2 linked regions of the Homo sapiens genome follow. The protein of the gene in region 1 interacts with the protein of each later gene in a pairwise test. Each region holds a gene or a part of one and is shown on either strand. Other genes may lie near its edges.

Region 1 (3,848 bases):
TTCCTAGACCTTTAACCCCCTCCCACTCCATCCCACGCCATTGCATCCCTCCTGTTTCTGGCTTCCTGCTTTGCTCTAGCCTGTCCTCTGCTGAGTCCTCTGCCCTTCCCTGCCTGGTCCTCCCCCTGTGTCCTTCCTTACGTCCCTCTCGGGACAGGCAAAGCCCTACATCACCAGGGTTCTGTCCCGGGGGCTGCATGTCAAAGAGGTGAACTGTCCACAGGAAACCGCCTGTACGTCCACCCGGACTCCCCCAACACAGGAGCGCACTGGATGCGCCAGGAAGTTTCATTTGGGAAACTAAAGCTCACAAACAACAAGGGGGCGTCCAACAATGTGACCCAGGTAGGACCTGCTCTTCAAAAGGTAGCCTCGCCCTGCTCCCCACCCTGGGTCTGAGACCTCCAAGGCCACAAGGGTCCTGCGGGGCCAGTTTGGTTCATTTTTTCTTCCTTCCTACAGGAAGGAAGGTTCGTTTTTCTTCTGTCCTAAACGAAGGGTCATTTTTCCTCCTTCCTAAACTCTGGCTGTTTCTCACCCACCTTGGGAGGAAGATGAGATGGGATGAAGCTGAATCTTGGACGGGGGTCATATTCAGGCCACACAGGCCAACCCAGCCTCAGGGTTTCTTCACCAAATCATGGGTTGCCATTGCTCCGGCACCATGAAAGGCACAGAGTTGGCCCTGTGGTCCCAGGGAATAGATGCCGAGTTTCTCTAGGTTGAACAATCCTGTTAAAAGTGCCCTTGCTGGCTGGGTGTGGTGGCTCACACCCATAATCCCAGCACTTTGGGAGGCCAAGGCGGGTGGATCACAAGGTCAGGAGTTCAAGACCAGCCTGGCCAAGATGATGAAACCCCGTCTCTACTAAAAATACAAAAATTAGCCAAGCATGGTGGCGGGTGCCTGTAATCCCAGCTACTCAAGAGGCGGAGGCAGGAGAATCGCTTGAACCCGGGAGGCAGAGGTTACAGTGAGCTGAGATCATGCCATTGCACTCCAGCCTGGGTGACAGAGTGAGACTCCGTCTCAAAAAAAAAAAAAAAAGAAAAAAGAAAAAAGAAAAAAAAGTGCCCTTGCCCTAAAGCCCTGTTTGTGCTGATACCTTGGTCTCAATTGACATCTGGAGGTAGAAGAGGGGGCAAGAGGCTAGAATTGGTGCCCCAAAGAGTCCGGACACTGGAGTTGGAAAGCTTGGGGGAAGTTACATGGTGGCAGAGCAGGGGAATGGACAGGATGACCTCAAGGTGCTTGCTAGCCTCACGTGGGGCCAGCTGTTGGTGGGGGTGATGGGATCCTCGAAATCCTTCCTCCCCACCCCTACAACCGTCTTGCTCTGTCTACAGATGATTGTGCTCCAGTCCCTCCATAAGTACCAGCCCCGGCTGCATATCGTTGAGGTGAACGACGGAGAGCCAGAGGCAGCCTGCAACGCTTCCAACACGCATATCTTTACTTTCCAAGAAACCCAGTTCATTGCCGTGACTGCCTACCAGAATGCCGAGGTGAGGGCTGCCTGAGCCCCGGTGGGGAGGAGGGCAGAGTGGGGCCCACTGTCTTCCTTGGGAGGGATTTGGAAAGTTCCCGAGCCCCAGACTCAGGACTCAGGTGACTCTATTTCCCTTCTCTCTAGATTACTCAGCTGAAAATTGATAATAACCCCTTTGCCAAAGGATTCCGGGAGAACTTTGAGTCGTAAGTGCCACTGGGTTCAACTCAGCTTTGGTCCCTCCTGAGACACATCCTCTCCCTGCCCCTGAAAACAGGAGGGTGGGGGACAGATGCTACAGGTGGGCAGGCCAGGGAAGGAGGGTCGGAGAAGGAATGTGTGAAACAGGTAGGCTCACAGGTGACTGGTTCTGCTTGTGACCCGTTTTCTTGCCTTCTATTTTTTTCTAGCATGTACACATCTGTTGACACCAGCATCCCCTCCCCGCCTGGACCCAACTGTCAATTCCTTGGGGGAGATCACTACTCTCCTCTCCTACCCAACCAGTATCCTGTTCCCAGCCGCTTCTACCCCGACCTTCCTGGCCAGGCGAAGGATGTGGTTCCCCAGGCTTACTGGCTGGGGGCCCCCCGGGACCACAGCTATGAGGCTGAGTTTCGAGCAGTCAGCATGAAGCCTGCATTCTTGCCCTCTGCCCCTGGGCCCACCATGTCCTACTACCGAGGCCAGGAGGTCCTGGCACCTGGAGCTGGCTGGCCTGTGGCACCCCAGTACCCTCCCAAGATGGGCCCGGCCAGCTGGTTCCGCCCTATGCGGACTCTGCCCATGGAACCCGGCCCTGGAGGCTCAGAGGGACGGGGACCAGAGGACCAGGGTCCCCCCTTGGTGTGGACTGAGATTGCCCCCATCCGGCCGGAATCCAGTGATTCAGGACTGGGCGAAGGAGACTCTAAGAGGAGGCGCGTGTCCCCCTATCCTTCCAGTGGTGACAGCTCCTCCCCTGCTGGGGCCCCTTCTCCTTTTGATAAGGAAGCTGAAGGACAGTTTTATAACTATTTTCCCAACTGAGCAGATGACATGATGAAAGGAACAGAAACAGTGTTATTAGGTTGGAGGACACCGACTAATTTGGGAAACGGATGAAGGACTGAGAAGGCCCCCGCTCCCTCTGGCCCTTCTCTGTTTAGTAGTTGGTTGGGGAAGTGGGGCTCAAGAAGGATTTTGGGGTTCACCAGATGCTTCCTGGCCCACGATGAAACCTGAGAGGGGTGTCCCCTTGCCCCATCCTCTGCCCTAACTACAGTCGTTTACCTGGTGCTGCGTCTTGCTTTTGGTTTCCAGCTGGAGAAAAGAAGACAAGAAAGTCTTGGGCATGAAGGAGCTTTTTGCATCTAGTGGGTGGGAGGGGTCAGGTGTGGGACATGGGAGCAGGAGACTCCACTTTCTTCCTTTGTACAGTAACTTTCAACCTTTTCGTTGGCATGTGTGTTAATCCCTGATCCAAAAAGAACAAATACACGTATGTTATAACCATCAGCCCGCCAGGGTCAGGGAAAGGACTCACCTGACTTTGGACAGCTGGCCTGGGCTCCCCCTGCTCAAACACAGTGGGGATCAGAGAAAAGGGGCTGGAAAGGGGGGAATGGCCCACATCTCAAGAAGCAAGATATTGTTTGTGGTGGTTGTGTGTGGGTGTGTGTTTTTTCTTTTTCTTTCTTTTTATTTTTTTTGAATGGGGGAGGCTATTTATTGTACTGAGAGTGGTGTCTGGATATATTCCTTTTGTCTTCATCACTTTCTGAAAATAAACATAAAACTGTTGAATGTGCCTGCCTCAGTGCCAGCATGGGGGGACATGGATGGGGACTCAGTTGGGGTTGTACCCAAGCTGGTGTACCCAAGGTGTTCTGTCAGCTTTCATTTATGGGGAACCTGCTAAGACCCTGAAATGACTCCAGCTGAGTTACAGCAAGGCCACATGTCCTACCTTCAGCACTCAGGGGGTTGGTTGATGCTACCTCTTAAGGCATCTTGGGACGGACAGAGAAGAATCCCTTGCCCTGTGTGCACCCTGACATTGAAAGGAGGGGTGTGAGGGCAAGGCCAAGGGCTGGACTGGGAGCGGGGGTGCAGGGCGCTGTGAGGCGGTGGCACTTGATTTTTCTTTGCATTTCTAGCAGCCCTCCACCTTTATCTCTAGGGTTATTCAAGGATTAAAGAAATAAATATAAAATGAGCCATGTGAAATTACCATTTTTGTAGGTCGAAAAGCCAAATATTAGCAATTTTATGTGACTCAAGCTAATACATGTAAAGGGTTTAAGAACATTGCCTGACAAACAGTAAGCACTCACTGTGTAAGCTACTGTTACCAACAGTTTCTAGCTGTTTCTGTCT
Region 2 (3,961 bases), on another chromosome or scaffold:
TTTTTTTTTTTTGAGATAGAGTCTCACTCTTTTGCCCAGGCTGGAGTGCAGTGGCACAATCTTGGCTCACTGCAGCCTCTGCCTACCAGGGTCAAGTGATTCTCCTACCTCAGTCTCTCAAGTAGCTGGATTACAGGCCCATGCCACCATGCCCAGCTAATTTTTTTTCTGTGTGTCTATGTTTTTAGTAGAGGCAGGGTTTCACCATGCTGGCCAGGCTGGTCTCGAACTCCTGACCTCATGATCCGCCCACCTTGTCCTCCCAAAGTGCTGGGATTATAGGTGTGAGCCACTGCACCTGGCCTAATTTTTGTATTTTAAGTAGAGATGGGGTTTCATCATGTTGGTCAAGCTGGTCTTGAACTCCTGACCTCAAGTGATCCACCTGCCTCAGCCTCCCAAAGTGCTGGGATTACAGGCGTGAGCCACCACACCTGGCCCTACAAAGGATATTTTAAATGATACGAATGAACAGCCAGATGAAGAGATACCTCCAGGCATATGGTTATGTTCTTATTTACCAACCAGAAGGCTCTCTGAGCCGTGTTTTTGGGTTTTTATGGTGGCTTTATTATGGTGACATGATTAATCACATCATTCACTATGGGTGATCAACTCAACCTTCAGTTTTCTCTTCCCTCCCTGGAGGTGGGGACAGAGCTGAAAGTTTCAAAGCTCCAGTCACATGGTTGGTTCCCTGGCAACTAGCCTCACATCCTGTGGTTTGTAGGAGCTTTCCAAAAATCACCCCATTAACATAAACTTAGCTGTGGTGGAAAGGGGATGGTTATGAATAACTAAAGACATTTCTTCCACCTGTCACTCTGGAACTCTTCTAGAGCTATTTTAAGAACTGAATACAAAAGGCCATTTTTTTTTTTTTTTGAGATAGGGTCTCCTTCACTCTGTCACCCAGTGACAGTGGCACAATCTTGGCTCAATGCAGCCTCCACCCCCGGGTTCAAGCAATGATCCCACCACAGCCTCCTGAGTAGCTGGGACTACAGGTGCACGCCACCACATCTGGCTATTTTTTTCTATTTTTAGTAGAGATGGGTTTTCGCCATGTTGCCCAGACTGGTCTCAAACACCTGAGCTCAAGCATCCACCTACCTTGGCCTCCCAAAGTACTGGGATTACAGATGTGAGCCCCAGCGCCCAGCCTTTTTTTTGTTGTTTGTTTTTTGAGACAGAGTCTTACTCTGTCACCTAGGCTGGAGTGCAGTGGTGTCATCACAGCTCACTGCAGCCTTGACTTCCCTGAGCTCAGGTGACCCTCCCACCTCAACCTCTCAAGTAGCTGAGACTATAGGCACACACCCCTATGCCTGGCCAATTTTTGTATTTTTTGTAGAGATAGGATCTCACTGTGTTGCCCAGGCTGGTCTTGAACTCCTGGGCTCAAGCATCCTGCCTGCCTCAGCCTCCCAACATGGTGGGATTACAGGCAGCCCAAATATTTTAACAAAAGATACTCCAATTGCTCTAGTCGCTTAGGAAATTACAAGGTTTTTAGCAACTGTGAGCCAGGAACCCTGGACAAAACCCAAATTATATATTTCACAATATCACAACTTTCTTTTCCACCAAACTGGGGGGTGGTACTCAAAATGATACCCTCTCTCTGCAGTTTGATTCAATTATAACTTGGATATTCTCTAAGAATCCATAGTTCTTGTCTGTGTGTCAACTGGGAAATCACTGTGGATTTGAATAAGTACTCTGCACATAAGAAAAACCCATGATGGGGCCAGGTGTGGTGGCTCACACCTGTAATCCCAGCACTCTGGGAGGCTGAGGCAGGTGGATTGCATGAGCCCAGGAGTTTGAGACCAGCCTGGCCAACATGGCGAAACCTTGTTTCTACTAAAAATACAAAAAACTAGCCCGGCGTGGTGGTGCGCACCTGTAGGCCCAGCTTCTCGGGAGGCTGAGGTGAGAGAATCATCTGAGCCTGGGAGGTCAAGGCTGCAGTAAGCCGAGATCACACCACTGTACTCTAGCCTGCATAACCATAGTGAAACCTTGTCTCGACAAAAAAAAAAAAAAAGAAATATACATGATGGGCTGCACTGTGTAGATGACCATTACCCTCTAGGAAGACCTCAGTGGTTTTCTTTTTTTGAGACAGAGTCTTGCTCTATTGCCCAGGTTGGAGTCCAGTGGCATCATCTCGGCTCGCTGCAACCTTTGTCTCCTGGGTTTAAGTGATTCTCCTGCCTCAGCTTCCTACATAGTTGGGACTACAGGTGCCTGCCACCATGCCCAACTAATTATTTTTATTTTTTTGGTAGAGATGGGGTTTCACCCTGTTGGCCAGGCTGGTCTCAAGTTCCTGACCTCAGGTAATCCTCCTGCCTCGGCCTCCCGCAGTGCTGGGATTACAGGCGGGAGCTACCGCGCCAGCCAAAGGTTTTCTGATATACAATTTAATTTATGTCACCCAGTCTCCAGTAGCAGCAAAATTTTCATATCAAATACATGAGGCAATTCAGACATAGAGATCAATGGCATGAAATTGAAATTCCAGAAATAGGCCCATATATGTGTGTGTGTGTGTGTGTGTGTGTGTGTGTGTGTGTGTGTGTGTGTGTATATAGTGAACTGAGTTTCAAAAACGGTGCCAGGAATCGGGAAATAATATTATTTTCTTTTTTTACTTTTTTCTTTTTTTTTTGTTGAGTCAGAGTCTTGCTCTCTCGCCCAGGCTGGAGTGCAGTGGTGCGATCTCGGCTCACTGCAAGCTCCGCCTCCCGGGTTCACGCCATTCTCCTGCCTCAGCCTCCTGAGTAGCTGGGACTACAGGAGCCTGCCACCAAGCCCGGCTAATTTTTTTTGTATTTTTAGTAGAGACAGGGTTTCACCATGTTAGCCAGGATGGTCTCGATCTCCTGACCTCGTGATCCGCCCGCCTTGGCCTCCCAAAGTGCTGGGATTACAGGCCTATGCCACCGCACCTGGCCTAGAATATTATTTTCATAAATTGGTGTTGTGACAGTTGGATAGACATACAAAAAATAATAAAATTGGGCCGAGCACAGTGGCATGATCATCTGAGTCCTGGAGTTCAAGACCAGCCTGGGCAATATAGTGCAACCTCATATCTTATAAAAAAAAATTAGCCAGGTTTGTGGCATACACCTGTAGTCCCAGCTGCTTGATGGCTGAGGGAGGAGGATTGCTGGAGCCTGGGAGTTTTGGCTGCAGTGAGCTATGATTGTACCACTCTAGTCTAGCCTGGGTGACAGAGTGAGACCCCAATTCTTTGTTTTTGTTTTTTTTTTTTCAGACGGAGTCTTGCTCTGTCACCCAGGCTAGAGTGCAATGGCGCAATATCGGCTCATTGCAACCTTCGCCTCCCGGGTTCACACCATTCTCCTGCCTCAGCCTCCCGAGTAGCTGGGACTACAGGTGCCCGCCACCACGCCTGGCTAATTTTTTGTATTTTTAGTAGAGACGGAGTTTCACCGTGTTAGCCAGGATGGTCTCGATCTCCTGACCTCGTGATCTACCCGCCTTGGCCTCCGAAAGTGCTGGGATTACAGGCGTAAGCCAACGCACCTGGCCTTTTTTTTTTCTTTTTTTTTTGAGACAGGGTCTTACCCTGTCTCCCTGACTGGAAAGCTGTGAGCCTCAGCTCACTGCAGTCTCTGCCTTCCAGGCTCAAAGGATCCTCCCACCTCAGCCTCCCAAGTAGCTGGGGCTACAGGCGTGCACCACCACACCTGGCTAATTTTTGTATTTTTTGGAGAGACAGGTTGTGTCATGTTGGCCAGGCTGGTCTGGAACTCCTGGGCTTAAGTGATCCACCCACCTTGGCTTCCCAAAGTGCTAGGACAAGAGTCCTGAACATTTTTTCTCTATTCTGATGTCACAATCTCCAAAGTTATCTAAAACTTGCATTCAAGAGCACCTGTTAGAGCTTTATAGCTGATTATAAAACCACCTTCTAAAGAGGACC

What was found. The genes of interacting proteins can lie anywhere in the genome.
Region 2: the proteins of TBX21 (region 1) and ZNF490 interact in a two-hybrid assay, tested with the Homo sapiens proteins (one large-scale study listed by BioGRID and IntAct).

The regions. Positions count from the first base shown.
Region 1 is NC_000017.11:47,742,848-47,746,695, forward strand, and holds the end of TBX21 (T-box transcription factor TBX21), read left to right. Parts: intron 1-223; coding exon 224-345; intron 346-1,347; coding exon 1,348-1,506; intron 1,507-1,634; coding exon 1,635-1,696; intron 1,697-1,900; coding exon 1,901-2,519; 3' UTR 2,520-3,275; downstream 3,276-3,848. UniProt on the Homo sapiens protein: Lineage-defining transcription factor which initiates Th1 lineage development from naive Th precursor cells both by activating Th1 genetic programs and by repressing the opposing Th2 and Th17 genetic programs.
Region 2 is NC_000019.10:12,600,713-12,604,673, reverse strand, and holds part of ZNF490 (zinc finger protein 490), read left to right. Parts: intron 1-3,961. UniProt on the Homo sapiens protein: May be involved in transcriptional regulation.